Regions from separate parts of the Homo sapiens genome. Here regions 1, 3 and 4 are each linked to region 2. Evidence: fine-mapped expression QTL. A gene starts in region 2. Each other region holds a variant in brackets. All regions are shown on one strand. Distances are from middle to middle.

Region 1 (5,000 bases), 960 kb after region 2:
AGACTGAACTGGGGCAAAGGACTGTTGGCCTTAACCAGAGAGATTTGAGGGAGAGATGAGGCTGAGAGCCAGGGGATCCTGCCATGTCCCAGCATAAAAACAGTACCTGACACAGATGGGTGCTTGGGAGCTGTTGTCGGATGAATGAGTGGACAGATGCATGGATGGACGGATGGATGGAAGGATGATAGATTGATGGACAAACAGATGAACAGATGAATAGCTGGATGGACAACTGGATGGATGGGTAGACAGAATGATCTCAGAGATCAGAAAAAGCTTCATGCACTAAGTGGGACTGAACCGCGTCTCCATGGGTAGAAAGCAGAGGAATCTCCACTTGAGTCAGGAATGACCCAGTGCTCTCAATCCAGGGAGAAAGCCAGCCTGGCTTCACTGGGGACACTTGTGTGGGGGACTCAGAGGCCCTTTAAATGAGGCCAGACGAGGTTGGACAGGTCCAAGCCAACTCAGCACTCCTCTGCCACACTGCACAGGAGGGGATGTGTCACTCAGGGAGTTGCTGGGACCTATGGGTCCCAGTGTTGTCATCAGCACCGACAGCCTCAGAGAGGAAAGACACACACTGGGGTAACTCCAAGGCTGTGTGTGGCACTTGCCTTGGACAGCAGACAGGCACAGGGACACCTCTAGGGGGCTGGCCACCCCCCTGCCTCATGTCTAGGTCCCAGCCCCGCCCACTGCAACCCTGTGCCCGTCATGCCCAGCAGGCTCCTGCTCCAGCCCAGCCCCCAGAGAGCAGACCCCAGGTGCTGGCCCCGGGGGTTTTGGTCTGAGCCTCAGTCACTGTGTTATGTCTTCGGAACTGGGACCAAGGTCACCGTCCTAGGTAAGTGGCTCTCAACCTTTCCCAGCCTGTCTCACCCTCTGCTGTCCCTGGAAAATCTGTTTTCTCTCTCTGGGGCTTCCTCCCCTCTGTCCTCCCAGCCTTAAGCACTGACCCTTACCTTTCTCCATGGGGCCTGGAGGAGGTGCATTAGTCTCCGGGTAACCGGCAGGAAGGGCCTCCACAGTGGGAGCAGCCGGATGCAGCCTGGTCCCGGGGCCTGAGCTGGGATTGGGCAGGGTCAGGGCTCCTCCTCTCTTCCAGGGCAGATGTCTGAGTGAGGGACAGAGGCTGGTTCTGATGAGGGGCCCTGCAGTGTCCTTAGGGACATTGCCCAGTGACTCCTGGGGTCAAGGACAGAGGCTGCTGGGGTGGGCCTGGGAGCTGCTGAGTCTCATAGTCTAGGGGAGCAGCCCCAAGAACAGCTGAGGGTCTAGGCTGAGGACTGGATGCCAATCCAGCCTGGGAGGGCCACACGGCCTGGTGACACAGAGGTCACCCCAAGGGGAGACCAATGGAGGGCACAGAGAGGGCTCTGGGTCTAGGCTGCAGCTCTGTGGCCTGTGCTGGGTCATGAGGACATGGGGACACAGAGGGACGGGTGAGACTGGGTGAGGTGCCAGAATCCAACCCTCCCAGGACAGTCACCAGAAAGGAGACAGTCTCTTAGGGCAGAGATGTGTCTGTCCCTGGAGCCCCGTCACCTCTGGGGCCCAGTGTCTCTCTGTTCACGGATCGGCCTCCTGCCTTCCTCAAAGGGCATGTTAGACTCAGGAAATGACCAGAGGGGAGTGAATGAGGGGTGCAGAGAACTCCATGGCTACCAGGTGAAGTTTGGGGTCATCACAGGCTGCTGGGGTGGGCCTGGGGGCTGCTGAGTCTCATAGTCTGTGGGAGCAGCCCCAGGAACAGCTGAGGTGAAGGGTTCTGTGGTCGGGCTTGTGGAGACAGGAAACATCTCAGAGCCTCAGAGGAGCCCTGAGGCTTGTCTAGGTGGAGCCCACTCCTTGCCAGGAGAGCCAAGTGGGCTGGGCTGGGGCAGAGCCCGGTGCCTGTGAGGGATAGGAAGCTCCAGTTCAAAGCAGGCTTGGGTCTCCCCACACACTGCCTGCCAGGACAGTCCTACAGGATGAGCAGGGGACCCACAGTTCACGGAGGAGGCTCTAGGTCCTGGAAGAATAAAGTGGGTGATGGAGGGGGGTATAGGGATGGAAATGAGGGATCCAGGGGTCAAGGCCAGATTCTAAACTCAGACTCCAGAGATCAGAGAAGAAGGAACACAGCCTGCCCTGGGTATATGGAGAAATTGAGGCTGTAGAGGAGAGGGGCTGGGCCAGGACACCTGTGAAAGGTGACTTGGGAGGGCTCCTAGGAAGGCACAGAGCTGTCTGCTCTCCACAGGGCATGAGTGGAAAGGATGGGGAAAGAAGAGGAGAGAACCCCGGGTGGACCGGATGGCCACACTGTGAACCCTCCCAGAGACTTTAGACAGAGAGAGGGGCTCCACAACACCCCGGTATTCTGTCTGCCCTCTCTCACCCCCTTCCCTGTCCACACAGGTCAGCCCAAGGCCAACCCCACTGTCACTCTGTTCCCGCCCTCCTCTGAGGAGCTCCAAGCCAACAAGGCCACACTAGTGTGTCTGATCAGTGACTTCTACCCGGGAGCTGTGACAGTGGCCTGGAAGGCAGATGGCAGCCCCGTCAAGGCGGGAGTGGAGACCACCAAACCCTCCAAACAGAGCAACAACAAGTACGCGGCCAGCAGCTACCTGAGCCTGACGCCCGAGCAGTGGAAGTCCCACAGAAGCTACAGCTGCCAGGTCACGCATGAAGGGAGCACCGTGGAGAAGACAGTGGCCCCT[A/G]CAGAATGTTCATAGGTTCCCAACTCTAACCCCACCCACGGGAGCCTGGAGCTGCAGGATCCCAGGGGAGGGGTCTCTCTCCCCATCCCAAGTCATCCAGCCCTTCTCCCTGCACTCATGAAACCCCAATAAATATCCTCATTGACAACCAGAAATCTTGTTTTATCTCATTTTTTTTCTCACATAAATTGCTAGCCTCCCCGGGGTTCTCAGTGTGGGGTACAGGGAATTCTGCACCCAGTGTGAAAATCACCCAAGGGAGGAGGCTCACAGCCTCCCTGAGTCATCTCCCCAGAGGGTCCTTCCTCTCCCAGTCACCCCTTCTCCAACTCTCCACTGTACCCCTGAGCTACCAGTCTGGCATCAGTTCAGACCAGTCCCACACCCTCCTAAATTTTACTTCTCAATAAATACCTGATCATGTAAAACGCAGCATTTCTAATGTGCAGTCTCTGTCTGGTCATGTGTCTGGGCTGAAGGGTCACTGCTCAGGGACAGGGGGCAGTTCCAGGTGAGATCCCATGTCTCCGTCATCCCACACCCCACCCAACCTGCCAGGGAACCGGGTGAGCTCCCTGTGCCAGTGGGAACTGCAATCCAAGGCACAAAATTGTCCTGCAGTCCTTGCCCACCTGGGAAGGGACAGGGGCCCAGTGAGAGGTTTGCTGGCGCCCTGTGGGGAGATTCAGGAGAAATGAAGGGGGTCCCCGGAGACCAGATGAGGGCTAGAGGCAGAAATAATGGAAAAAGGACACCCTTGACTCAAGGCCACGGTCTCAGCAGGAACAGAAGGTGAAATTCCCCATTGCATACGAGGAACCAGTCAGGAGAGTGTTTACTGGGTGAGGGATAAATAACTGTGCTGCCACTGGGAACTTGTAAAAACATTGGGAAAGGAAACATGCAAGTGTCTTTCTAAGACTTGTACAATGGACATTGGCTAAGTAAACATACTGACAAGTCCTGCACTAGGGAACCAGTTTAATATGATGAGCCACAGCATATCCAAAAGCATGTTGATCTCCTTCTTCACCTTTAGAAGACCCAAAACACTCTGAAAGATACCAGCGTTTCCTGGAACTAGTTTGTGGAATATGGGGTGAGGTTGATGCACATGATGTTACGGGTATATGATCACATGGCTGTGGGTTGGGGATCAGGCTCAAAGTTAACACTAGCGTGGGGCTGGATGTCAAGCATGAAGGGTGTGGACCACTAAGTCAGGCCCAGGTAGAGTTAATTTCTGATTGGTTTGTGGCTGGAGCTTGATGATGGTCAGTCTGCAGGAGCAGGAGGATGTGGGGAAATTGGGAAAATGAGAAAAGTCACAAATCCAAGCTCAAACTCTGCATCTATTGATTGCCTGGGGGAGGCTAATCAGAGTTGAATTCAGGATGAGCTTCAGGGCTGGGTCAGACTGAATAAGAGCTGAGTGAATGTGGGCTGATGGCTCCAGGCAAGTCCTGGCCTCCACTAGGAGTCAGATCCCACAAACCCTCCTGCCCGCAGAGCACCCTCTCCCTCCGTAGCTCATGGTGGCGCAGCCTCCCCACCCCATCCCATGTACACCTGCTGCCTCATCTCAGAGACACTCATTCCAGTGTCTCTGACAGCAGATGATGTCAGCCTCCTGGGTGTGGAGACCCCAGCTGTCTTGGAGAGTCCTCAGTGCCTGGGTACTCTCAGACCCCCTGTCTCTGCCTCCAGCACATCAGAGACATAGCAGCTGCCTCCACCAGAGCTGCTGGGTGATCCCAACAGGCCAGGGACAGAGCCTGCAAAGACAGGAATCTCTGCAGTCACAATGAGGCAAAGAAAGAGCCCCTTAGAGCTTGATCACAGCCACCCCTGATCCAAATCCCAGCCTCTCATTAGAAGGAGGCTTGAGGGTTCTGTTGCCACAGCACCTGTCTGAGCCCATTTCATGGAGGGGAAAACTGAGATGACCAAGGGCCAGATCCATAGTCCTGCTGGGCACAAGGCCATCCCCAGCAGCTGCCTAATCTTTGACTGTGTTATAAGTTTCCATTATGGAAAACTTTGAACACATACATAAGGAGACAGAGAAATAATAATGCCCCCAAGTTCCCATCACCCAGCCCCCCCAATAAGCAATTCACAGACATTACTGACCCACCCATAGCAGAATAACCCCTCCATTACACAATACCAGACATCACATCTTTTCAGCTGTAAATATCCCATTTCTATGCTGGAAAGATATGGGCTTAAAAGTAACTGCAATATTATTACCAAACCTAAATAGAAATTATCACTAATTCCCTAATA
Region 2 (8,215 bases):
GCAACTTGCCCCTTGAAGTCTCCCATCCCACCATGGAGCAACTCTACTCATGGGAACCCACCCTGAAGAAATCATCAGAAACACAAAAATAATTTTAAAGACAAAGTACAGAATCACTTATAATTGCCCATTAATTAGAAATACTATATATCCAATGACAAAGGAATAATACTTAAATTATGATCTAGTCTCGGCCAGGCGCAGTGGCTCACGCCTGTAATCCCAGCACTTTGGGAGGCCGAGGTGGGCGGATCACCCGAGGTCAGGAGTTCGAGACCAGCCTAGCCAACATGGTGAAACCCCGTCTCTACTAAAAATACACAAATTAGCCAGGCATGGTGGCGGGCGCCTGTAATCCCAGCTACTCGGGAGGCTGAGGCAGGAGAATCGCTTGAACCTGGGAGGCGGAGGTTGCAGTGAGCCGAGATCATGCCATTATGCTCCAGTCTGGGCGACAGAGCAAGACTCTGTCTCAAAAAAAAAAAAAAAAAAAAAAGATCTAGTCTCTTGATGAAGAATTAAGCTGCTATTAAATATGATTTTCATAACGAAATATGCAACTCCCATACGACCCCACCGTGGCACTCCTGTGGACTTATCCCAGAACAATGAAGGCTGTTCACATAAAAGCTTGAACACATGAACACAAATGTTCATAGCAGCTTTATCTGGAACAGCCAAAATCTGGAGTCAGCCTAGATGTCCTTCAACGTGGAAATGGTTAAACAAACCGTGGTCGACCCATACCTTTGAATACCACTCAAGAATGGCAAAGAATGAACTCCTGATGCATCAAACAACCTGGGCTAATCTCCAGAGAATTAAACCAGTCCCCTAAAGTTACACATCATATGCTTCCATTTATATGTGTTCTTGAAATAATAAAATGGTAGAAGCCGAGAAGATTAGTAGTTGCCAGTGGTTAGGGATGGGGTCTGTAGGGGTGGGGGTATAAGGGTGGCCTTAAAAGGGTGACAGGAGGGATCCTGGTGATGGAACTGCTCTGTATTTTGACCATGTTAGGATCCTGGTGGTGATATTTTATTATAGTTTTGCAAAATGTTACCATTGGAGGAAACTGGGTAAAGTATACATGGAATCTCTTTGTATTATTTATTACAACTGCATGTGCAGCTATGATTATCTCAAAACAAAAAGTTTAATTAAAAAAAACTAGCCCAGGCATAGTGGCTCATGCCTGTAATCCCAGCACTTTGAGAGGCTGAGGTGGGAGGACTGCTTGAGGTCAGGAGTTCAAGACCAGCCTGGATAACATAAAGAGACCTTGTCTCTTAAAAACAAACAGGCTGGGCGCCATGGCTCATGCCTGTAGTCCCGCGCTTTGAGAGGTAAAGGCAGGCAGATCACTTGAGGTCCGGAGTTCGAGACCACCCTGACCAACAAAGTGAAACCCCGTCTCTACTAAAAATACAAAAATTAGCTGGGCGTGCTGGCATGCACATGTAGTCCCAGCTACTTGGGAGGCTGAGGCAGGAAAATTGCTTGAATCCGGGAGGCAGAGGTTGCAGTGAGCCAAGATTGAGCCACTACACTCCAGCCTGGACAACAGAGCGAAACTCAGTCGCAAATGAACAACACCAAACCAAAAAAAATTAGCTGTGTGTGGTGGTATATCTACTCCCAGCTATTCGGGAGGCTGGGGCAGGAGGATCCCTTGAGCCAAGGACGTCGAGGTTACGGCGATCTCCGATTACACCACTGCATTCCAGTCTGGGTGACAGAGGGAGACCTGGTCTCTTAAAACAGAAAACTAAAAAATGGATTTTAATAGAGTTTATAAGCATGTAAAATGCTTCTGTCATGATACTAAGTGAAAAAAGAAGGAAAATTACATATGCAGTTTAACTACAAGTCCATGAAAAACCACCAGGGCCAGAAAAAAAAAAAGGCGGGAACAGCACACAACCAAGGTGTCAGAGTGGGCCTGCACGTGGCAGTTCCACGGACAGCTTTTTCCTGAAGTACACTTTCTTAATACTTCCCCAGTTTTTCATTACAAGTGTTAGTCTCGTGTGACAGTGGCTTTAAAGCATGTCCACAAATTCTTTGACTTCCCCTTTTGCGAGGTGGAGCTCACTTCCCACTGCTGAGTGTGGGAGCTGGCTGCTTCTGATGAAGAGTGGCAGTGACTGCGTGTGCTTCAGGTGTTACGAAACAAAGAGGCCCTGCGCCTCCCGCCTTGTGTATTCTCACTCTCTTCCTCCCTCCCTCTCATCGCTCAATCTGAGCTGTGAGGATGCTCAAGCAGCGCCACGGAGAGTCCACATGGGACGGGACCAGGGCCTCCTGTCAGTGGCCGTGTGTTGAAACCACCGTGGAAGCAGGCCCTCCAGCCCAGCCAGCAACCATGTCACCACAACCCAGTAAGAGACCCTGGACCAGAACCAGCTAAGCTGCTCCCAGATTCCAGACCCACAGAAACTGGGAGAATAAATGTCTGTTGTTTTAAGCCACTACATTTGGGGCAATTTGTTATGTAGCAACAAATAATATAAGCCACAATACTCATTTGAAAAGAAAAAATACCCAAATCCTACCTAAGCTTGGCTTCTCAAGAAAAGATCAACCAGTAACAGGCCCAAAGGAAACCATGGGGGCTCTGGCTTCAGGGACTCATGTCACTTCAATGCACAAACTCTCCTGGAACTCCTGCCAGCCCAGGTGCATGTGGCAAGCATGGTGAATCAGGGCCAGTCAGCCGAGGGCAGGAGTTGAGTGTCACAGGCCACACCCAAAGGACATGGGGAACTGAGAGGAGGAAAGAGCTCCTGCCTAAAGGCGGAGGCTGTGGAAGAAAAGGAGAAGGGCTGAGGCCAGAGGGGGCCACCGAGGAAGAACCATGAACGCGAGGGCTTATGCACGCAGGAGGTCACAGAAAGACAGGTTCTTGGGAATCCATGCATCAAGGCAGGGGTGGGGGCATCCAGAGCCAGCTGCTGCCGCCATGGCCAACACAGGGGCCTATTCAAGCATTTGGCAAGAACTGGGGACTGGCAAGGCTATGGGTGAAGGAGGGGCCTGAGAACTCATTCAGGCAGGCCCAGCTCAGGGAAGGCAGCTCCACACAAGTTTGGCCAGTGGATCCCCTGCAAACCAGCAGGAAACCCCCCTCGTCCTGCCAGTCCTTGTAGCGCTGCCTCCTCTTCCTCTCGTCTGAGGGCCACTGTGCCCAGAAAACTGCCCCTAAATGCCATGGACTCCTCCTCACTCCCTCTGGAAACTGTGGGCTCCTGGTGCTTACCAGGCCTGAGCTCGGGCTGGGGGAGACTCCGGCCGCCGCTGTGGCTCACGGTCTCGCCCCGGGTGCTACTGCTATTTCCAACAGCCGCTTAGCCTAGACTCTGCTCAGGAAAGGCCAGCGGCTGAGGCAGTGCTGCCCAGCCCACGGACTCCCCATGCCAAGGGCTGCAGCCCCGCAACCTCGCTTCTGGATTCTTCGCTGATCCAGTCACCGGGGAGGGGCTGACTGGCAGCCACACAGAGGTTTCAGCCACTCGCTGCTCTTCAGTGGCAATTCTTATAATACAATCCCCACTCTGACGCAATTTTGTAAGAATGGCTTGGAGTCCAAAAACTTGACTACATTCTACTTCCGTGACAGGGAGAGCATGATCAAGGCCGCTAGGCAGGCCTGCATGCGAGGCACTCTGACAGACGGGGAAGCAAGGGCAGGCGAGACTTCCTTCTAGCTGCGCCCTCCCTCCTTCCCAGGCCTGCAGGAGCCCCGAGCGTAGGACTGGGCTGGTGCCGGCGCAGCAACGCTCCTTCTCACCGGCAGGTGGCGCTGTCTCCCGCGTGGACGGACAGAGACCCATCAGGCGGGGAGGGCCTGGGCGGTGGCGGCGCCCCCTTGGTGGGGCCGCAGAGCGGAGGAGCAGCAGCTGCCACCGGCCGGAAGCCTGCTGGCTCGGCCGAGAACAATGGCCGCCTGTCACTGTGGACAGCTGTCTCCCAGGCTAAGGCAAGGCTGCGCTCCCAGGGAATGCGGGCAGGGAGCCAGGGCGGAGGGCAGAGGACGAGAGCGAGGAGGAGAGCGCGGGCACCCACTGATGCTGGCGGCCTCGGGTATTCGCTTTCTCTCTCTTCTCCCACCTTGTTCCTTTTCCCCGGATGCACGCATGCACTAGTAATGCCGAATTTAGAACAACAGGGAAAGGAAAGGAAATGGCAAAGGAAGGGAAAGGAAATGGCCGACAGGAAATGGCAAGGAAGGGAAAATCCACTGCAACTCTGCTGCCTGCTGGCCTGTCCAGGGACAACTATTCAGCTGGGTGGGACGTTGCTACCCCCTTGTGGCACCCCTGCTGCAGCCTGCGATTCTTACGCCCTGTATTTCTGGTCTAACATCAACCAACACTTTGGCGAAATATAATAAAATGAAATTACTAGGAGAATGAAAGAAAGTCACATGAAATAAAAGCCCTGCTTTTTAATGATTATATCCTCTGTGAAATGGATCTGCAGCCCTCTCCATTTCTGGGTTCCCCTGGCCACACCATGCTTATGGCTGTCCCAGGAGCAGGCTGACAGACAAGCTTCCACCAGCATCTAACCATGGGGCTCATGGACACCGTAGAGCGTCTCCACCCAACAGAATCCTGACTTGGGGGCAGCTGAGGCAGGGGGCCCGAGCGTTGAGGGGACCACGCTGCTGCCCCGAGACCTGCTGGCATGCCACCTGGCCAACCCTGACTTCGCCTGCCCGGGCGCATGTTAACTGAGTTACAACACTGAGGGCACTTGAACCTGGCTGCATGACCAGAGATCGATCACCTGTGAGATCCTCTGTGAAACGGGATAAGCATCTTTAATTTCCTGGGCTGTTCTGGAACTTCAGTCAGACAGGACACAGGAGGGTGTCTGCACCACCCACCCCTGCCTCGTGGGCTGACTGGGAACTATATGACCTGTGGAGGGCTGTGACCGCCACCCTCCACCTCACTGGGGCCGCAAGCCTTCTCTGCTCCTTGATTCTGCTGCCGTTGTGAGCGAGGGCCCCAGCACCCTTAGGGACCCCAATCAATGGGCTTCCCACAATGTCGTCACCCTTTGTTGCCTGCTAAGCAGCCCTGGGGCCACCTCAGAAGAAACAGAACTCACAGGTCACAGGGGCCTTTTCCTCCTCGTCATCGTCCTCCTCCTCTTCTTCTTCCTCCCTGGGCAACTTCCTGAATTCGGAAAGGTCTGTCTGTAGCAGCTGTGAAACTGCTTCGTGGGCCAGAGCAGCAGCAAGTGGTGGCGGGGCCTTCCTAGGGATGAGGAGGGGGAAGTGAGGGGCAGCCCCCAGCAGGAGACCACACCTAGCCCCCCTTCCCCAACTGTCAGCCCACATGCTGAGGGGTCACGGCCAGCAGGGCGGCCCCTGTCCTCAGGGAGCTGGGACAGGAAGGTCACAGGACAGCAAAGGCAGACGCACAACCATCTGGTGGGGAGCTGGACCATACTTGAGCCTGCGGCTAGTTGGGAGGGGGCTGTTGATGGGCAAGTAAACTGCCTGACATCCATGCTGATGATGGCTCCTGGCCACAGGAGGGCAGAGGAATCACCCATGCCAGCTGGGGACCCTGGGGGGTGGGGAGTGTTCTGGGTTGAATTGTGTCCCCCCTAAATTCATACACTGAGGCCCTAACCCCCAGTACCTCAGAATGGAGCTCATTTGGAAACAGGGTCATTACAGATGGAATTAGTTAAGATGACGTCATGCTGGAGCAGGCTGGGCCCCTACTCCAATGACTGATGTCTCTATGAAAAAGGGAATTTGGGCCGGGTGCGGTGGCTCACATCTGTAATCCCAGTACTTTGGGAGGCCAAGGCAGGTAGATCACGAGGTCAGGAGTTTGAGACCAGCCTGGCCAACATGGTAAAACCTCATCTCTACTAAAAATACAAAAATTAGCCGGGTGTGGTGGCGCATGCCTGTAGTTCCAGCTACTCAGGAGGCTGAGGCAGAAGAATTGCTTGAACCTGGGAGGTGGAGGTTGCAGTGAGCCAAGATTGTGCCACTGCACTCCAGCCTAGGCGACAGAGCAAGATGCTGTCTCCAAAAAAAAAAAACAGGTTGGGGGAGGAATTTGGACACAGACACACACACACAGAGAGAATGCCAGGGGAACATGAGGCAGAGACCTGGGGGATGAACCTACAAGCCAGGGAATGCCAAGGGTTGCCCACAAACCACCAGAAGGAGCCAGTTCTGTCAATATCCTGATCTCAGATGACAGCCTCCAGCACCATGAAGCACACTTCTGTTGTTTAAGCTGCTGGGTCTGTGGTCATTTGTACAGCAGCTCCAGGAAGCTGATCCTGGGGTGTGGGACCCATGGGCACACTCAGCAGAGGAAGTGGCTGTGCGTGGTCCACAAGGTCCCTGGGCGGATGGGGCCATAGGAGCTGCCGGGGTGAGGGGCTGTGGGAACAGGGCAGGCCAAGCTTTATGCTAACAGGGAAGCACTGCCATTGGTCTGTGTTTTATTTATTTATTTTTAGAGACAGGGTCTTGCTCTGTCTCCCAGGCTGGAGCACAGCTGTGCAATCATGGCTCGCTGCAGCCTCAAACCCCTGGGCTCAAGAGATCCTCTCACCTCAGACTCCAGAGTAGTTAGGGCTACAGGCAGTAGTTAGGGCTACAGACATCACCATGTCCAGCTAATCTGTAAATTTTTTTGTACAGGTGGGGTTTTGCTATGTTGTCCAGGCTGGTCTTGAACTCCTGCCCTCAAGTGATCCTCCCATCTCAGCCTCCCAAAGCCCTGGGATAATGGCGTGAGCCGCCACACCTGGCCGCCTTTGGTCTGTTTGAAGAGGGACATGGCATGATCAGATGGGGCTTTTAGGCCTCTCTGACCCTGGTGTGGAGGGTGGGCTGGCAAGAAGGGGACGACTGTCTAAAGGAGAGAGTCTAAGACCTGGGCTGGGCAGGGCCATGGTGACAAACAGGAGCAGACAGAGTCGGGCAGTATAAATGGAGGGGCAGGGACAGTGTTGAAGTTTCTATTCTGAGCAACTAGAAGGCTCGTGGTACAGTTAATTACCCTGATGGGGATGGAAGAGTCAGGCAGGGGATGGGCAATGGGCTCTGTTTCCACAGCGACTTGTGTTCCACGGAGGTCAAGAGGCCTGAGGGCCTGCAAGAACATGGTCTGGGCAGGAGATGGAGCTGCGGAATGAATGAGGATAGGGGGCTGAGTCCCACAGGGCCAGAGCATGGCTAGCAAAGTGGGGATGACTCCAGGAGTGGCCTTCTGGGTGCCACGAAGGAAATGTTTTAAGAAGTGAGATTGGGTCACTGCTTTCAATGTCATAGAACAGAGCTGAGCAGTTGAGGAGGCGTAGTGGGTAGAAAGGGAGGTCGCAGCAGGCTGAAAGCAAACCGACAGGAGGGTTAGCGTCTTTTAGCAGGTAGGCAGGGCAGAAGAGAGCCACGGGGCAGATCAGGGAAAGAAACACTGAAGCCATCTGTGGCTGAGAAGGAGGGCAGTGGGGAGGAGTGTCTAAAATTCTGAGCCATCCCTGGCTTTTCTGGGCAGAAGGGGTCGCTCCCTCAGTGGCCCTATGGCCTCTAACATGCATTTTGACCCCTGGAATCTGCCTTCTCACCCAGTGGGGGCCCTGGAAGCTGGACAACACACATTCACCCCTGTGTGCCTGTCCCTGAGAGTGGGGGTCAGGGGAGCATGCCTGGGGTGGCGAGGTGATTCTGCACTGGGCCGACACTCCCGGCTTTAACTGGAAGGCGAGGACCTTCCAACAGCACAGGCTGACAGGTCTTGTTCCATGGGGGCTGGGCACCCAAGGTATCTACTGATGGTCTGAGGAATCTACCGGGATGGATTCCTGATTTTTTTTTTTTTTTTTCTGAGACGGAGTTTCGCTCTAGTTGCCCAGGCTGGAGTGCAATGGCGTGATCTCAGCTCACCACAACCTCCACCTCTCGGGTTCAAGTGATTCTCCTGCCTCAGCCTCCTGAGTAGCTGGGATTACAGGCATGAGCCACCATGCTCAGCAGATTCGTGATTTTTAAAATGAAAGGGTGACTCATGGGAGAAGCCTCTGGAACTGCCTTTGAAAAACAACCAGCCAAGACATGAGAAATTAGTTCCTCTGCCATTTGGGGGTTTCCTGCCAACTGCTGGGTTTTCCTTTTGCACAGCAGGGAGGAAGGACGCCTGTTTCCCTTGGTCCCGGTGAGGCCAGG
Region 3 (8,215 bases), 20 kb after region 2:
TTTAGAGACAAGCTCCTTCTCTGGTGCCCACACTGGAGTGCAGTGGCATGATCACAGCTCACTGCAGCCTCAAACTCCTGGGCTCAAGTGACCCTCCCCTCCTGCCTCAGCCTTCCTAGTGTCTGGGAACACAGGCAAGCACCACCACGCCCAGCTGATTAAAAAAAATTTGTAGAGACAGGGTCTCTATGTTGCCCAGGCTGGTCTTGAACTCTTGGGCTCAAGTGATCCTCCTGCCTCAGCCTTCCCAAGTGCTGGGATTATAGGTGTGAACCATTACACCTGGCCAAAATATTTTATTTTAAAGGCAGAAGAAAGAAACCTTTATGTCAAAGAAAATGTTTTAATATATGATATTAATATATTCACCTTTATACCAATGCCGTTGGAAAGTATAATTTTTTAAATGGAGGATGGGGCACCAGATCTTATGTGGCTCTGCCCACCTGACCTTCAGGTCCGCAGGCCTGTGTCCTTGCCAGGAATGAATGTCTCTGGGATGCTTCTCTAACAGGAGGAACCTGGAGTGAGACCAGGAACCTGGAGAACTAGCAGCTGGGTGACTGGAAAGGAAACCATCTGGGGTGGGGTTGGGTCTGCAAGGCAGGAGGTGTCTGGGCAGAGAAAGCAGGGCTGGGGCGGAGGGTCCTGCCTCATCCCATTCTCCTGCTCACTCTTTCCTAGATCCCTGTCAGGGCAGTAACCATGAGCAAGGCTTGAGGCTACTTCTTATAAACAGTGGCCCTGGGCACATTCCTTAGCTCACCTGAGCCTCAGTTTCTTGATGAGAAAAAATCGGGACAATAGCAACCAACCTATCTCAGAGGGCTGCTGTGAGACCCTGAGCCACTGTTTCTCAAACTGCCCCTGAGATCACCTACAACAGAATGGCTGTAGGGTGAAGTTTGAGAACCGCAGTACAGGTGAGGTGGTGCGTGGGGCAGGCCCTCCCACACTGTAAAGTGCAGTGTGGTGCGGTAAAAGCTGATATTCCCGCAGGCATCCTCAGAGTGGGCCCAATTAGACTCTTGAGCACTGATTCCATTCAAGGTCTGCGGCTTAGAGAGGATGGCAAAGTGAGGCACCACCAGGAGCTTGTCCCTATGGGCTCCAGGCCAAGGACGTGCCTGGAGATGACTCCTGCCTTGTGGCGCTGTCACTGCCTCACTGTCCACATTCCATCACGCCTCAGATCCTGGCTTCCACCCTGGTGAAAGGAATCTTTCAATATCACCCACCCAGCCACAGACGCTTCTCTGCTTCTCTGGCAAGGCTGCACCCCTGGCTAGGTGGGCAGGGCCAGGGGCTCCTTGAGACAGTCTGCAGCCACTGACCTCTCCAGCCTCCAGGGCAGAGGTACAGTCCCATGGAGCGTGGCTGATCTGAAGGCAGTTCTGGCCTAAAAGGGGTCTTGTCCCTTCCTTGTCCTCATTGCTCCCAAGGCCAGGTTGGCAGCAGTAGCAGCGGGGTTGGATGCTATTGGATGGGAGAAGGTGAATGGACTCGGAGTGCAGAATCAAGCTGCGGAAGCCAAGGGCCTTGAAGGAGGGTCACACACAAGGGACAACTGCAGAGGAAAATAAAGGAACACTTTGTGATTAGCCCTGCCTGTGGCTGAAAGCGCAGTGCAGAAGCATAGTAAGGAAGGACTGGGTGGTCTGGGTTTAAGACCTAGGAACCGTCTCTGCTCCTCCAAGCCTGAATGAGCCCTATAACCTAAGGGTCCTGGAGGTCTTGAAACCTTCTGCGGAGAAGGCTCCAGGTCCACTGGGCCCTGTGGGTGGAAGAGCAGAGTCACAGCCCCGCACTGGGGACCTAACAGGTGTGGCCTTGCTAGGGCCCCAGAATGGGACCAGAGTGGGTGGGAGGGGGCAGAAGCTCTGAGAGCACCCCCTCCTTCCTGAAGCCTGTGCTTCTGAGACACATCCCAGGACCCTCTATGTGGTTCCCCATGTCTCTGTATTTTCATTCAGCTTCGAGTAGCTCTCCAAACTGTGTTCCAGGGAACCCCCGTGTTAACCTGTGAGGGCCTCCAGGAAGGGGGTCCAGGGGGGGTATGCTTGGTGGGCTCTGGGTTTCCTTACAGGAGCTCTCATATAAGTCCTGGTGCAGCCTGGGAATCTACTACTGAGTTGGGGCGGGGGCGGGTCTGAGTCCGAAACATTCCTGACCTGCCCCTCAAAGAAAGGTCCCACTGAACAGTCTGGAAAGCTGTTTTGCTGAGCTCCCGTCATCACTCAATGAGGCACGGGCGGAGTGTGGAGGGAGTTTCCAACACACAGTGGATCCCGCACAGGTGTCTCTCCTCGGGTGGCTGGGGAGGGGAGCACAAGAAGGCACTGAGGTCAGAGGGCAGCTGCCACCAGCACCTGGCACCACACGGCAGTCTGGCCTACAGGGTATTTTCTAAACCTGGCATGTGAATGGGTTCCATGGGGCACCCAGCTGCCTCTAAGACCATAAGGGCTTGTTGTGAGAATGGGAATTGCAGCAGGTCCTGGGAAGCTGCCAGACGCACACGGGCACCATGTACAGGGCTTCTCAGAGATGGGAGCAGGGAGCAGGGGACGGAGAAGTGTGGGGTCAAGAGCGTGGCCCTGAGCAGGGGGCTGCAGCGAAGACCAAGGGGATTCATAAGCCAGATCCGGGGAGGGGGTCTCCCAGCCCCACCTGCTCCACTAGACTCCTCTCCTGCCGGAGCCACAGCTGTCAAGGCCGCCTTCCTTAAGGCATCAGGGCCACTGCTTGTGCACACAGCTACCATCAGCAGCACGGATTGAGATGGGGTGTGAGTGCAAACTGGGTCTATTCCCCAGGGCTTCAGGGTTGGGGCATCCCTGCCCGTACTGCCAGGGTGTAGGGATAGCAGGGAGCACTCTGGGCACGTGTATGCAGGCTGAAGGGAGACGTATTGGGTTTCGGAGAGGGAGAGAGGGCCCCACAGGTGCCCAGGGACACGGTAACGCTCTGACATCGCTGCACCAGCAAAGGGGCCCCAGCTCTGGATAAGATAAAATGCATTTTAATAGTTTGAAGTGCCATGAGGTGTCTGCATGGCACTGCAGCCTGGGTGAGGGAGGACAGGGTCATCATACAAAGTAGGCGGCCAGGGCTGACATCTTGTCCTTGGGCCGTCTGGGGTTGGGCTTCCCAGGGGGCCTCCTGGCCCGGCCCCGCCCTCGACCCTGCCTTCTCCCTGGTCCACCGCGGTGCATGGGGTGGCAGGAGGCCGCATGCTTCAGCTCCACCAGCTCCTGGAAGACGGGGTCACAAAAGACGCAGCCCATGTGCTGCGTCTCATCGCCCGGGAGTGGGGACTTGGCCTTGTTGAAGTCCACATCAAGCAAGGCGGCCTCACAGACACTGCAGGTGTCGGCGGACACCCGCACGCGGTGGGCGTTCTCGAAGCAGTGCGCTACCACGTTGCACTTGTTGCAGGCCACCTTCCACTTGGGGCCCGAGGTGGGGTCCAGCACCAGCACCCCGCTCTCACATTCCACGCACTGGCCGATGCCCAGCATGCTCAGCGAGTGCTGGCAGGAGGGGTGCGTACACTCGTTGCAGCCCATGCCTGGCGGGAGAAGGGAGCCCTGTAAAGGCACGCCCACTGTGCCCACCTGCCCTCTGCTGCCTGCTCCCAATGCCTCAAGCTCCTGGATCCCTCGTCCCAGCAGAAGGAACTCTTCTTGGCCTTGCTCTTGGGGACAGCCTTGCTCATGTTTCGGCTCCTGGCTGCCATTACCCCTGTTTTCTGCTTACCTGAAACCTCCTCAACTTTCAAGGCCCCTCGCTGGCACCATCCCAGTGGGTTTCAGCTGACTCCATCCCCCCTTTGCTTTGCTGCCAGCTTGTTACTGGTAATGCCACATGACCCTCATGTCACTGGGCCACATGGAACCACCCTGTCAGCTACTCTGGCGGCAGCAGGAGGGCAGGGATGGGGTCTCACTCCCGGGGCAGCCTGGGTGCAGACTGAGGCCTGAGGGAGCTTTCTGCAGAGCACACGGTGAATGTGGGCAGATGCCTCACTCCCGCTGATTCCTGGTCTGGCTCGGTGCTCTGTCCTGCCTGCCTGGACATGCGCTCCCTCCTCCAGTAATGAGGACGAGGATGAGGATGGAGGACGGTGGTGGACGCTGACTGGGGGTGCCCGCTCACCGGGTGGGTCCCCCGACTGCTGCATCCTCTTGCTCACTCAGCTCCAGAGGGAGCACTGCACACCTGTGCCCAGGTCCTGAGGGTGGACTAGGGTTGCCTGCTCGATTCTGACACAGAGAGAGGGTGGCACCACTGGCTGAGGCCTAAGCAGTGCCCCAGCTACATCCAGGGTCTCTCGTCTCAGTGCCAATGAGTGCAGGAAAGGCCAGGGTGAGGGGTCCCCTCAGAGTCCAGCCTGGTGCAAGGCAGGGGTTGGCACTGAAAAGAGACTGCAGCTACCTGTGGACAGGAGGGAGTGGCTGCACTCACCTTTCTTCATGTCTCGGAAGGGTGGGTGGTTGTAGCAGTAGGGGCACAGCGGGTAGCTCTTGCCCCGAGAGCCTGATGACCACAGGACCAGCTCGAAGTCATCCAGAGGGCAGCGGAGCTCCTTGTAGAGCTTGATGGTGCCGTTCTGGGGGAGCGTGTAGGTCTCATCGCAGTGGGAGCAGTGCAGGCGGCTTGGCTTGGCCTGCGGCAATGCCAGGCAGGTGGCGTGAGGGTCACTGGGGCCACCGACTTGGCACCCACCCCCACTCCTCTCATAATACAAAGTATGTAATCTGTCATGCAGAACCTGTGACACACTGCCAGGCAAGGAGCATGAGTCTCTGGCTCTTGCTCCACGCGTGCAGAAAAGGCAGTTCTAAAATCTCTGTGTGTACATTAATGCCCATGATGGCAAGTGGCATGGTGTTAGGGAAAAATGCACCATGTGTGTTTGCGTGGCCTAATGGCTGTGTATTCTAGGGGACGTGGGGACACTGGGTATTTTTTGGCAAGGCCTCTTTATGTTCCATCATTCTTTTGTGACAACCAGGACAAAGAACATGATTCCTGCTGATCAACGATAAAGCTGAGGCCTACAGGGGTGAGGCAGCTTGCCTGAGCTAGTGTTCCCTGCACCTACCTGGATGTACTTCATGAAGCGGTGGCACTTCCCACAGCGTGAGAGGGGCTTGCCTGTGGCCGCCAGGGGCGAGAAAGACACCTCCATCAACTCATCCATGCCTGCGGGCAAGCAGAGTGCAGGAGTCATCTCCCTCCCAGTCCCCAGCAAAAGGCTCCGCAACACGTGGTCAAGGGTCTGAGTGTGAAAGGGTCCCTATAGGCGGTGGTTTCTACTGTCCTGGCAGCACGGCAGGGCAGCAGCCCTGTGCGTCAGAGGCACGTGTTCCTGGCCATGTGTGGTGTTAATGCACCTGCTCTTTCAACCCAGCCAGGAGGTGTCACTG[A/C]CCTGGCCTACGGAGGCCTGAAGCCCAGATCTGGGAGCTGGTCCCACGTGGGGACCTGGGTCCCCAGGTACTGGCCTTGCTGACAGAGAGACACCCCTCTGGTGAGGGGCAGGCCAGAGGCAGACTCTACCAGCAATGGAGTCGACAAAGTAGTGGAACTTCCTCTTGAACACGTCCAGGGTGTGGCCCAGGACCTGGCGGTAGTCGGCCTTGCCCTGGGCGATCAGGTTCAGCTGCTTCTCCACTGCACTGCGGATGGTGGGGAGCACCAGCTCTGCATCTGCAAGTGGGCAGGGGGCAGATATTGCCCTGAGCACTCGCACCCAGGGCCATGCCACCCCTTCCCAGGCAGGGATACTGCCCTGTTCACCCCTCCCGCTCTGGCCCGTCCTCCTGGCCTCTGCCCTACCCACCAGTCCACAGCCTCAGATGGTACCAGGCTGGCTCTTATGACCCCAGACCTTTCCTGATTTCCCACCTGGAAATGTCAGGCAGAGTGGCCAGGGATGTCCTGTGGCTAGAACCACATCACACATGAGCTCCAGGCCGCCCTTGGGCCAGTTTTGTGCTCCTCCCTCTCCCCTTGGCCCCTGGGGAACCTCCAGGGAACAGGGCTGAGGCAACTTCGCCTCCCTTTTTGGTTCCCTCACACATCTGTTCAGCCTTCAAACACACTGAGCTCCTGCTCTGGGCAGGTCCTGGGGGTCCTGGGGCAGCACCCCTTCAGCGGGTGTTGAGGGAGTGTGTGTGGGGCTGGGGGATCACTGTAGGGCAGGGGCCTGTCTGGAGCGGGCAGCAGAGCCAACATCCAGGGAGAAGCCAGGGAGCCTCGGTGGGCCCTGGGGGCAGGACTGAGGAACTCACCAATCTTATAGTAGCCGTGCACCAGGACGATGCCGAGGTTGGTGGGCTTGAGCCGGCGCCCGCTCTCCACCGTGACATAGTTGCGCTGGCAGATGTTGTTGATATGCACAGGGATGCTGGCATCCGTGCCTGCAATGTACAAGGCCCCAGGGTTCCTGGCCTGCCTTGGACATGCCCCACTGAACCATGTGCTGTATCACCTGTCACGGGGCCCCTGGTGCTCAGGCCCTCTCACTGCTCCCGGTCACAGGAGGGAGGGCTGTGCCCTGAGCTCCCCCTGCACTGTGCTGGGCACCAACTGCATGCATTTCATGTTCTGCCTTGAGAACACAAGGGCAGCCCTCCCTGTACAGGGCGCCTACTCCTGCTTTATGGCAGAGACAACAGGCTCGGAGGTTAAGGAACTCTCCAAGGTCACAGTGCTTATTCTGCGCCTGGAAAATGTGACTTCTATGGCTTCTCCTGCCTGGGTCCTGTGGCACCCACCTGCTCCCGGAGCCAGAGCCCCACTCCACCAGAACACGGAGGTGCTTACAAGCTCACTGCAGAGCTGCCCTCCCCTAAACCTGGACAATTCTGTCCACTTCCTGTCTCCCACCTCCTCCCTCTCTGCAAGGCCCGTCACGATCCCCAGGGGAGGCTCCCAGTCCCCAGGATTCCACTCTCCCACCCAGAGGAAGTTTCCTGGCAGAGGGGCGCAGCGGAGGCTGAGGCGTTTTGACTATGGCGGGTGCCAGTCAGAGGGGCAGAAAGGAGGCTGGGGCTCCCTGCATGCTCACCAGCATGGACAGGTGACACACACCTTCCCAAAGTAGCTCGGAGAGAATCTCACATGGGAAGAAACTGGCCTCTGGGGGCTAAGGAGCCTGCCGAGGGCCCATGGCTCTTGGCACGAGGCCAGCTCTGCACCCGGTGTGGCAGGCTGTGGGTGGCGTGTGCCACTACCACCCCGAGTCTGCCGGGCGCCATGACGCGTGGTGTGGGCTCCTCTGTGGCGGCTCTGGTCAGGCCCTTTTGACACACTCCTGGGGGCTCAGTCACAGGGCCACCCTGACCACTCTCCTGTTCAGAAGGTAACACCAGAGCCCTCTTCACTGTCACAAACTTGTATTGGTGATTGGGTCTGGCTCACTGGCTAGCATAGGGCTGCCAGGAGCCAGTGTCCCATCAATGCGAGAGGGCAGAGGACACGGGGGAGCAGAGCCCACACTCCACAGTGGGCTGAGGGCTATTTCAGGACCCTGGCAGGTGCCCTGGACCCCTGAGAGGAGCAAGCCCAGAGCTCTGCTCTCCTGCCAAGATCGCCATGGTCACCAGGACCCCAGCCTGGGAAGAGACACTCCCTGAGAGTCCACCTATATGACCACTGCTGGAGCAGAGCCTGGACACAGTGGCTGTGACATCCCACAGGTCTCCAGAGCCTGTCAGCCAGGGGTAGTGCCCCAGGGAACAGGCAGTGCCCAGCGGCGCGAGTGCCACCTGGGGAGAAGGCTCCGGCAGTGAGGCTGGCCCCCAACATGTGAGACATCTCACAGCTCCAGGCCTGGGGACTTGTGAGGCCACCACTCCTGTGAGGAGTGTGCACTGGTGACTACACTTTTGCTTTGATAAACTCCCTGGGCTGCCCATTTTTGCGTGGAAACTTCCTGGTCACCCTTTGGGGAGCCCTGTGCCTGGGACAGGCATTTCTGTTCTCTCCCAGGGAAGCAGCTCCTGTGAGATCTCATTTCCCTGTCACCTGATTTCAGGACAGCCCAGGCTGGCTGTGTGGACTCAGGGGACTGCCAATATGATTTCTATGAGTCACCTGGCATCTGGGCCAATCTTCAGCCTTGTGGGCGTTAGTCGGTGTGTGCACACCCCACAGTGCACGAGGGCACATCTGGGCCTTCACAGGGAAGGCCAGGTCCTGAATGGAG
Region 4 (8,215 bases), 57 kb before region 2:
AGCCTTATGTATACCTTATAATTCATTACATGAGACGAAAGGAACAACGTAATTCATACAGCAAAAATCAAGAGTCTTAGGAAGTATACTAGATACTTTCCTCACATTTGTAAATTAAAAAAAGAAATGGCAAGAAATTATAAACAAGAATATCAAAACACCAGAAAATTAGAAAATTAGATGAGCAAAGGTTAGATTACGTATAACAAGCCAAATGTAAACAAGTAAAAATGTAAACTTCTAAAATTACTATTTAAAATATTAAAACTTCAGATCACATCAAAAAGCAAACTGAATATATACTGTTGTTTAAAAAGATATGCCTATTTATGTGTGTGTATATATATAGTATGTATATGCATATATATACATATTAGTAGTATGTATACTAATAATATATATAATATAAAAAGGCTTTGTTACTGGACATGGTGGCTCACACCTGTAATCCCACTGCTTTGAGAGGCTGAGGTGGGAGGATTACTTGAGGCCAGGAGTTCAAGACCAGCCAGGTCAACATAGCAAGACTCTGTCTCTACAAAAATAAAAATTAAAAAATTAACTGAGTGTGGTGGTACACACTTGTAGTTCCAGCTATCCAGGAGGCTGAGGCAGGAGAATCCCTTAAGCTCAGGAGTTAGAGGCTGCGGTAAGCTATGATCACATCACTGCACTCCAGCCTGGCCAACAGAGCAAAATCCTGTCTCAAAAAAAAAAAAAGGCATTGTGAAACTAAAGGCACCAAATAACATAACAACACAAAACAAGAAGCAGAGCCGGGTGTGGTGGCACATACCTATCGTCCCAGCTACTCAGGAGACAGAGGCTGGAGGATCACTTAAGACTATTAAGACTGGAAGTTTGAAGCTGTAGTGCCATATGATCATGCTTGTGAATATGCACTGCATTCCAGCCTGGGCAACATAACAAGATCTTGTCTCTTTAAAAAAAAAAAAAAGTCGGCCGGGCGCGGTGGCTCACGCCTGTAATCCCAGCACTTTGGGAGGCCGAGGCGGGTGGATCATGAGGTCAGTAGATCGAGACCATCCTGGCTAACAAGGTGAAACCCCGTCTCTACTAAAAAAATACAAAAAATTAGCCGGGCGCGGTGGCGGGCGCCTGTAGTCCCAGCTACTCGGGAGGCTGAGGCAGGAGAATGGCGTGAACCCGGGAAGCGGAGCTTGCAGTGAGCCGAGATTGCGCCACTGCAGTCCGCAGTCCGGCCTGGGCGACAGAGCGAGACTCCGTCTCAAAAAAAAAAAAAAAAAGTCTATAGGAACACAGCTAATAGAAACACAGTTATAGGCTGGGCTCAGAGGCTCACACCTGTAATCCCAGTGTTTTGGGAGGCCAAAGCAGGAGGATTTCTTGAGGCCAGGAGTTACAGATCATCCTGGGCAATGTAGCGAAGCCCCTCTCTAAAAAAAAAAAGTTTTAAAAATTAGTCACGTGTGGTGGCATGCATCTGCAGTCCTATCTACTTGGGAGACTGACATGGAAGGATGGCTTGAGCTCAGGAGTTTGAGGCTGCAGTGAACTATAATTATAGTAAAATATGATATACCATTATCAGACTGTGACATATAAACAAAAATAAAGATGAGCTAAACAGCAGAATTAGTAAGGTATAAAAACTTACGCTGTGTCCTCCACCTACATAAAATACATCACCACCACTCCCAGTATCTCTGGAACATTGACAACAACTTATCCTTTACTGGACCACAAAATTTGTTTGTTTGTTTTTTTTTTTTTTTGAGATGTAGTTTCGCTCTGTTGCCCAGGCTGGAGTGCAGTGGCACGGTCTCAGCTCACTGCAACCTCCATCTCCCTGGTTCAAGCAATTCTCCTGCCTCAGCTTCCCAAGTAGCTGTGATCACAGGCACCCACTGCCACGCCCTAAGTTTTGTATTTTTAGTAGAGACTGGGTTTCACCATGTTTGCCAGGCTGGTCTCCAACTCCAGCCCTCAGGTGATCTGCCCACCTCGGCCTCCCAAAGTGCTGGGATTACAGGCATGAGCTACCACACCTGGCCCACAAAATTTTTTAATAAATCCAAATAAGCAAAAATTGTTGAGGTCAAATCCTCTGATCACAGCACAGTTTAACAAATGAACAATCATACGAAGTTTAAAATTAACAAACATCCTACTAAGTGCTTTATTAGAACATTAGCAGACATTCTACTAAGATTTCAGTCAGATGGCCGGACGCGGTGGCTTACACCTGTAATCCCAGCACTTTGGGAGGCCGAGGAGGGCGGATCAACTGAAGTCAGGAGTTTGGAGACCAGCCTGGCCAACATGGTGAAACCCTGTCTCTACTAAAAATACAAAAATTAGCTGGGCGTGGTGGTGCATGCCTGTAATCCCAGCTACTTGGAGGAGGCTGAGCGAGGAGAATCACTTGAACCTGGGAGGCAGAGGTTGCAGTGAGCCGAAATCGCGTCATTGCTCTCCAGCCTGGGCGACGAGTGAGACTCCATTTAAAAAAAAAAAAAGGTTTCAGTCGGGAAGCCAGGTGCAGTGGCTAGCACCTATAATCCCAGCACTTTGGGAGGCTGAGGCAGGTGGATCACTTGAGGTCAGCAGTTCAAGACCAGCCTGGCCAACATGGTGAAACCCAAATTAGCCAGGCGTGGTGGCAGGTGCCTGTAATCCCAGCTACTTGGAAGGCTGAGGCAGGAGAATCACTTGAGCCCAGGAGGCAAAGGTTGCAGTGAGCCGAAATTGGGCCGTTGCACTCCATCTTGGGCGAGTGAGACTCTGTCTCTCAAAAAAAAAAAAAAGGTTTCAACCAGAAAGGAAATAATACAGTAACAGGCCAGGAGCATGATGGCTAACACCCGCAATCTCAGCCCTTTAGGAAGCAGAGGTGAGAAAATTGCCTGAGGCCAGGAGTTTGAGACCAGCCTGGGCAACAAAGTGAGACCCTGTCTCTAAAAAAATTCAAAAAATAGGCCGGGCACGGTGACTAATGCCTGTAATCCCAGCACTTTGGGAGGCTGTGGTGGGCGGATCACGAGGTCAAGAGATCGAGACCATCCTGGCCAACATGGCAAAACCCCGTCTCTACTCTAAATACAAAAATTAGCTGGGCATAGTGGCGTGCGCCTGTAGTCCCAGCTATTCAGGAGGCTGAGGCAGAATTGCTTGAAACCAGGAGGCGGAGGTTGCAGTGAGCCAAGATCATGCCACTGCACTCCAGCCTGGCAACAGAGAGAGACACCATCTCAAAAAGAAAAAAAACAGAAAAAATTTTTTAAAAAAATTAGCTGACTGTGGTGGTGCATGCCTATAGTCCCAGCTGCTCGGGAGGCTGAGGGTGGAGGATCCCTGGAGCCTGGGAGTTCCAAGTTACAGTGAGCTATGATTGAGGCTCACTGCATCCTCAACCTCCTGGGCTCAAGCCATCCTCCTACCTCAGTCTCCCAAGTAGCTGGGACTACAGGTGTGTGCCACCATGCCCAGCTCATTTTTTTATTGTTTGTAGAGACAAGATCTTGGTATGTTGCCCAGGCTGGTCTCAAACTCCTAGGCTCAAGCAATCCTGCCTTGGTCTCCCAAAGTGCTGGGATTATAGGTGTGAGTCACTGTTCCCAGCCGAGACACTGTCTCATAAAAAGAAAAGAAAAGAAAAAAAAAAAAAAGGCTGGGTGCAGTGGTTCACACCTGTAATCCCAGCACTTTGGGAGGCAGAGGCAGGCAGATCACCTGAGGTCAGGAGTTTGAGACCAGCCTGACCAACATGGCAAAACGCTGTCCCTACTAAAAACACTAAAAATTAGCTGGGCGTGGTGGCAGGCACCTGTAATC[G/A]CAGCTACATGGGAGGCTGAGGCAGGGAGAATTGCCTGCACCTGGGAGGCAGAGGTTGCAGTGAGCTGAGATCATGCCACTGCACTCCAGCCTCGGCAACAGAGCAACACTTTAAAAAAAAAAAAAAAGAAGAAGAAGAAAGAAGGAGAGATAGAGAAAAGCAAAGAGGAGAAGAGAAAAGAAAGAAAAGAAAAGAGAGAGGCTGGGCATGGTGGCTCATGCCAGTAACCACAGCACTTTGGGAGGCCAAGGTGGGCGGATCACGAGGTCAGGAGATCAAGACCATCCTGGCTAACATGGTGAAACCTTGTCTCTACTTAAAATACAAAAACATTAGCCGGGCGTGGTGGCGGGCGCCTGTAGTCCCAGCTACTTAGGAGGCTGAGGCAGGAGAATGGCATGAACCCAGGAGGCGGAGCATGCAATGAGCCGAGGTCGTGCCACTGTACTCCAGCCTGGGTGACAGAGCGAGACTCCGTCTCAAAAGAGAGAGAGAGAGGGAGGGAGGGAGAGAGAGAGAGAAAAAAAAAAGAGAGATGCAGTAACACTCTTTGGAAAATCATGAAAATAATACAACTACTACTACAAACTTGGAAGACAATTCCTTTAATATTAGGCTGGGGTGGCCCCTGGCATTGATATTATATAACATTGCTTTGGCCCAAATAAGAGCAGCTGCCTTTTATCTCCTTTTCGGGGTTCCTCTTATCTGCCCATTCCTTAAATTCTAGTGTGTCCTCCCCTTACCAGTTAGAATCTTTCAGCTGTAAGTCCAAAAAGCCCTAAGTCAAACACGAACAGGACCAGGGTGAGCTGAGTGAGGCACCTGGGGTGTACATTTAAGGAGATGCTCACTCTCAGGGTTGGCAAGTGTAGCATCAGCATCCGAGAGTGAGCACCTCCTTCAATATTCTGTCCTAGGTGCTCAACTAGGACACAACTTTGGTTCTGGCCAAACTCAGTTGGTACAAACAGTAAAGGCACATGCTTTCTCATCTAACACAGGTAGGGGTCTGACTCCTCTTCTCTGCTCTTTTTGAGGCACTGCCCTCCTCTCTGTGTTGGCATTATCCTCAAGCAAGTCGGGAGGTGGCTGTAGTGGATCCAGACAGCACGTGGTACCACACTATTCAAAGGCAGAAAGGGACTGTCCCTCTGGGAGCCTCCTCAGGAGTAAGAAGCCCCCCAGCAGCAGCAGTCTTCCCCTCATGCTTCACTGGCATGCTAGGTTGCATGCCCACCCTATCTAATCACCATTTCTACTTATAGTATTTTCTAGTTTTTTTTGTTTTTTGTTTTTTGTTTTTTTTGAGAGGGAGTCTTGCACTGTCACCCAGGCTGGAGTGCAATGGCGTGATCTCAGCTCACTGCAACCTCTGCCTCCCAGGTTCAAGCAATTATCCTGCCTCAGCCTCCTGAGTAGCTGGGATTACAGGTGCCTGTCACCATGTCTGGCTAATTTTTGTACTTTTAGTAGAGTCAGGGTTTCGCCATGTTGGCCAGGCTGTTCTTGAACTCCTGACCTCAGGTGATCCACCTGCCTCAGCCTCCCAAGTATTGGGATTACAGGCGTGAGCCACCGTGCCCGGTCGAGAACTGTTCTTAATTTAAAAAAATGAATTAACTTACAGTAAAACTGACTTTTAAAATGTACACAGTAGTAGTTCTATTAGTCTTTTGGTTTTTGGTTTGTGTTTTTTTTGAGGCAGAGTCTCACTCTGTTGCCCAAGCTGGAGTGCAGTGGCATGATCATGGCTCACTTCAGCCTTGACCTCCTAAGCTCAAGGGATTCTCTCACCTCAGCCTCCCTAGTAGCTAGGACTATAGGCATGTAACACCATGTCCAGCTAATTTTTTTTTTTTTTTATTGATCATTCTTGGGTGTTTCTCGCAGAGGGGGATTTGGCAGGGTCACAGGACAATAGTGGAGGGAAGGTCAGCAGATAAACAAGTGAACAAAGGTCTCTGGTTTTCCTAGGCAGAGGACCCCGCGGCCTTCCGCAGTGTTTGTGTCCCTGGGTACTTGAGATTAGGGAGTGGTGATGACTCTTAACGAGCATGCTGCTTTCAAGCGTCTGTTTAACAAAGCACATCTTGCACCGCCCTTAATCCATTTAACCCTGAGTGGACACAGCACATGTTTCAGAGAGCACAGGGTTGGGGGTAAGGTCACAGATCAACAGGATCCCAAGGCAGAAGAATTTTTCTTAGTACAGAACAAAATGAAAAGTCTCCCATGTCTACCTCTTTCTACACAGACATGGCAACCATCCGATTTCTCAATCTTTTCCCCACCTTTCCCCCCTTTCTATTCCACAAAACTGCCATTGTCATCATGGCCCGTTCTCAATGGGCTGTTGGGTACACCTCTCAGACGGGGTGGTGGCCGGGCAGAGGGGCTCCTCACTTCCCAGTAGGGGCGGCCGGGCAGAGGCGCCCCTCACCTCCCGGACGGGGCGGCTGGCCGGGCGGGGGGCTGACCCCCCCACCTCCCTCCCGGACGGGGCGGCTGGCCGGGCGGGGGGCTGACCCCCCCACCTCCCTCCCGGACGGGGCGGCTGGCCGGGCAGAGGGGCTCCTCACTTCCCAGTAGGGGCGGCCGGGCAGAGGCGCCCCTCACCTCCCGGACGGGGCGGCTGGCCGGGTGGGGGGCTGACCCCCTCCCTCCCTCCCGGACGGGGCGGCTGGCCAGGCGGGGGGCTGACCCCCCCACCTCCCTCCCGGATGGGGCAGCTGGCCAGGCAGAGGGGCTCCTCACTTCCCAGTAGGGGCGGCCGGGCAGAGGCGCCCCTCACCTCCCGGATGGGGCGGCTGGCCAGGCGGGGGGCTGACCCCCCCACCTCCCTCCCGGACGGGGTGGCTGCCGGGCGGAGACGCTCCTCACTTCCCAGACGGGGTGGCTGCCGGGCGGAGGGGCTCCTCACTTCTCAGACGGGACGGCTGCTGGGCGGAGGGGCTCCTCACTTCTCAGACAGGGCGGTTGCCAGGCAGAGGGTCTCCTCACTTCTCAGACCGGGCGGCCGGGCAGAGACGCTCCTCACATCCTGGACGGGGCGACAGGGCAGAGGCGCTCCCCACATCTCAGACGATGGACGGCCGGGCAGAGACGCTCCTCACTTCCTAGATGAGATGGCGGCCGGGAAGAGGCACTCCTCACTTCCTAGATGGGATGGTGGCTGGGCAGAGACGCTCCTCACTTTCCAGACTGGGCAGCCAGGCAGAGGGGCTCCTCATATCCCAGACGATGGGCGGCCAGGCAGAGACGCTCCTCACTTCCCAGACGGGGTGGCGGCCGGGCAGAGGCTGCAATCTCGGCACTTTGGGAGGCCAAGGCAGGCTGCTGGGAGGTGGATGTTGTAGCGAGCCGAGATCACGCCACTGCACTCCAGCCTGGGCACCATTGAGCACTGAGTGAACGAGACTCCGTCTGCAATCCCGGCACCTCGGGAGGCCGAGGCTGGCGGATCACTCGCGGTTAAGAGCTGGAGACCAGCCCGGCCAACACAGCGAAACCCCGTCTCCACCCAAAAAATACGAAAACCAGTCAGGCCTGGCGGCGCGCGCCTGCAATCGCAGGCACTCGGTAGGCTGAGGCAGGAGAATCAGGCAGGGAGGTTGCAGTGAGCCGAGATGGCAGCAGTACAGTCCAGCTTCGGCTCGGCATCAGAGGGAGACCGTGGAAAGAGGGGAGAGGGAGAGGGAGAGGGAGCTCTTATTTTTATAAAGCTAAAAATATCAATTGTACAAACACCCTAGGGTAGGGAAAAAAAACAAAAAAAACCTCTATTCTAGATAGTAACCAACTTTATCCTAAATGTTGTAAATCTGGCAAAATTTAAGGAAATATGCTGGATAGAGTCCTTGAATACATTTACAAAGATTCCACTTTAACAAATAACATTTAAAGTTAGATGGCTAGGCGCGGTGCCTCACGCCTATAATCCCAGCACTTTGGGAGGCTGAAGCAGGCGGATCACTTGAAGTCAGGAGTTTGAGACCAGCCTGGCCAACATGATGAAACCTGTCTCTACTAAAAATACAAAAATTAGCTGGGTGTGGTGGCGGGTGCCTGTAATCCCAACTACTCGAGGAGGCTGAGGCAGGAGAATCACTTGAACCAGGGAGGCAGAGGTTGTAGTAAGCTGAGATCACGCCACTGCACTCCAGCCTTGGTGACAGAGCAAGACACCAGCTCAGGGGTGCTCCAGTTCCCTTCATCAAAGATATCCCCCAGGATGAAGACGACTTCCGGCTGCAGCAACCACAGAGCTGTCTGGAAGGCTCTCTCCATCTGCCATTCCCTTCGTAATTTGTCCAGCCAGTGGCCTAGGAATTCCCCAAGCAAATGGGTGTCAGCCAAAAACATGGCTTTGAGCACAGGCTCACGTGTGGTCTGTTC

Which allele goes with the higher level. Positions count from the first base shown, and alleles are read on the strand shown. Sizes are in standard deviations (SD) of each study's normalised expression. Not every link is listed here.
For the expression in cerebellar hemisphere of the gene that starts at base 3,827 in region 2, allele A in region 3 goes with a higher level than allele C (moderate effect, 0.62 SD a copy in GTEx).

The links. PIP is the estimated chance that this variant, and not a neighbour inherited with it, causes the effect. A credible set is the group of variants that fine-mapping cannot tell apart.
Region 1: its variant is the best candidate, but not a certain one, in a credible set for the expression of PPM1F-AS1 in ovary (GTEx, PIP 0.77).
Region 3: its variant is the best candidate, but not a certain one, in a credible set for the expression of PPM1F-AS1 in cerebellar hemisphere (GTEx, PIP 0.68).
Region 4: its variant is the best candidate, but not a certain one, in a credible set for the expression of PPM1F-AS1 in cerebellar hemisphere (GTEx, PIP 0.74).

Annotation. Positions count from the first base shown.
Region 1 is chr22:22,892,969-22,897,968 of GRCh38, forward strand. IGLL5 (immunoglobulin lambda like polypeptide 5) reads left to right here. Exons shown (of 3, transcript NM_001178126.2): 2 at 732-850; 3 at 2,407-3,143. The coding sequence ends at 2,726. It also overlaps IGL, IGLJ1 and IGLC1. Among named protein-coding and RNA genes, the nearest start is that of IGLL5, 7.7 kb to the left of the region's middle. The variant A/G (reference allele first, on the strand shown) is at 2,712.
Region 2 is chr22:21,934,411-21,942,625 of GRCh38, forward strand. PPM1F-AS1 (PPM1F antisense RNA 1) reads left to right here and starts at 3,827. Exons shown (of 2, transcript NR_147620.1): 1 at 3,827-5,203; 2 at 6,692-8,215. It overlaps PPM1F (protein phosphatase, Mg2+/Mn2+ dependent 1F), which reads right to left. Exons shown (of 8, transcript NM_014634.4): 3 at 5,122-5,270. RefSeq lists enhancers at 3,444-4,250, 4,251-5,058, 5,059-5,865 and a silencer at 3,802-3,961.
Region 3 is chr22:21,954,025-21,962,239 of GRCh38, forward strand. It overlaps TOP3B (DNA topoisomerase III beta), which reads right to left. Exons shown (of 18, transcript NM_001282112.2): 14 at 6,297-6,425; 15 at 5,563-5,712; 16 at 5,108-5,208; 17 at 4,468-4,669; 18 at 3,001-3,571. The coding sequence ends at 3,090. Among named protein-coding and RNA genes, the nearest start is that of PPM1F, 5.3 kb to the left of the region's middle. The variant A/C (reference allele first, on the strand shown) is at 5,433.
Region 4 is chr22:21,877,276-21,885,490 of GRCh38, forward strand. It overlaps the pseudogene MPPE1P2. Among named protein-coding and RNA genes, the nearest start is that of MAPK1, 14 kb to the left of the region's middle. RefSeq lists an enhancer at 5,548-6,309. The variant G/A (reference allele first, on the strand shown) is at 3,817.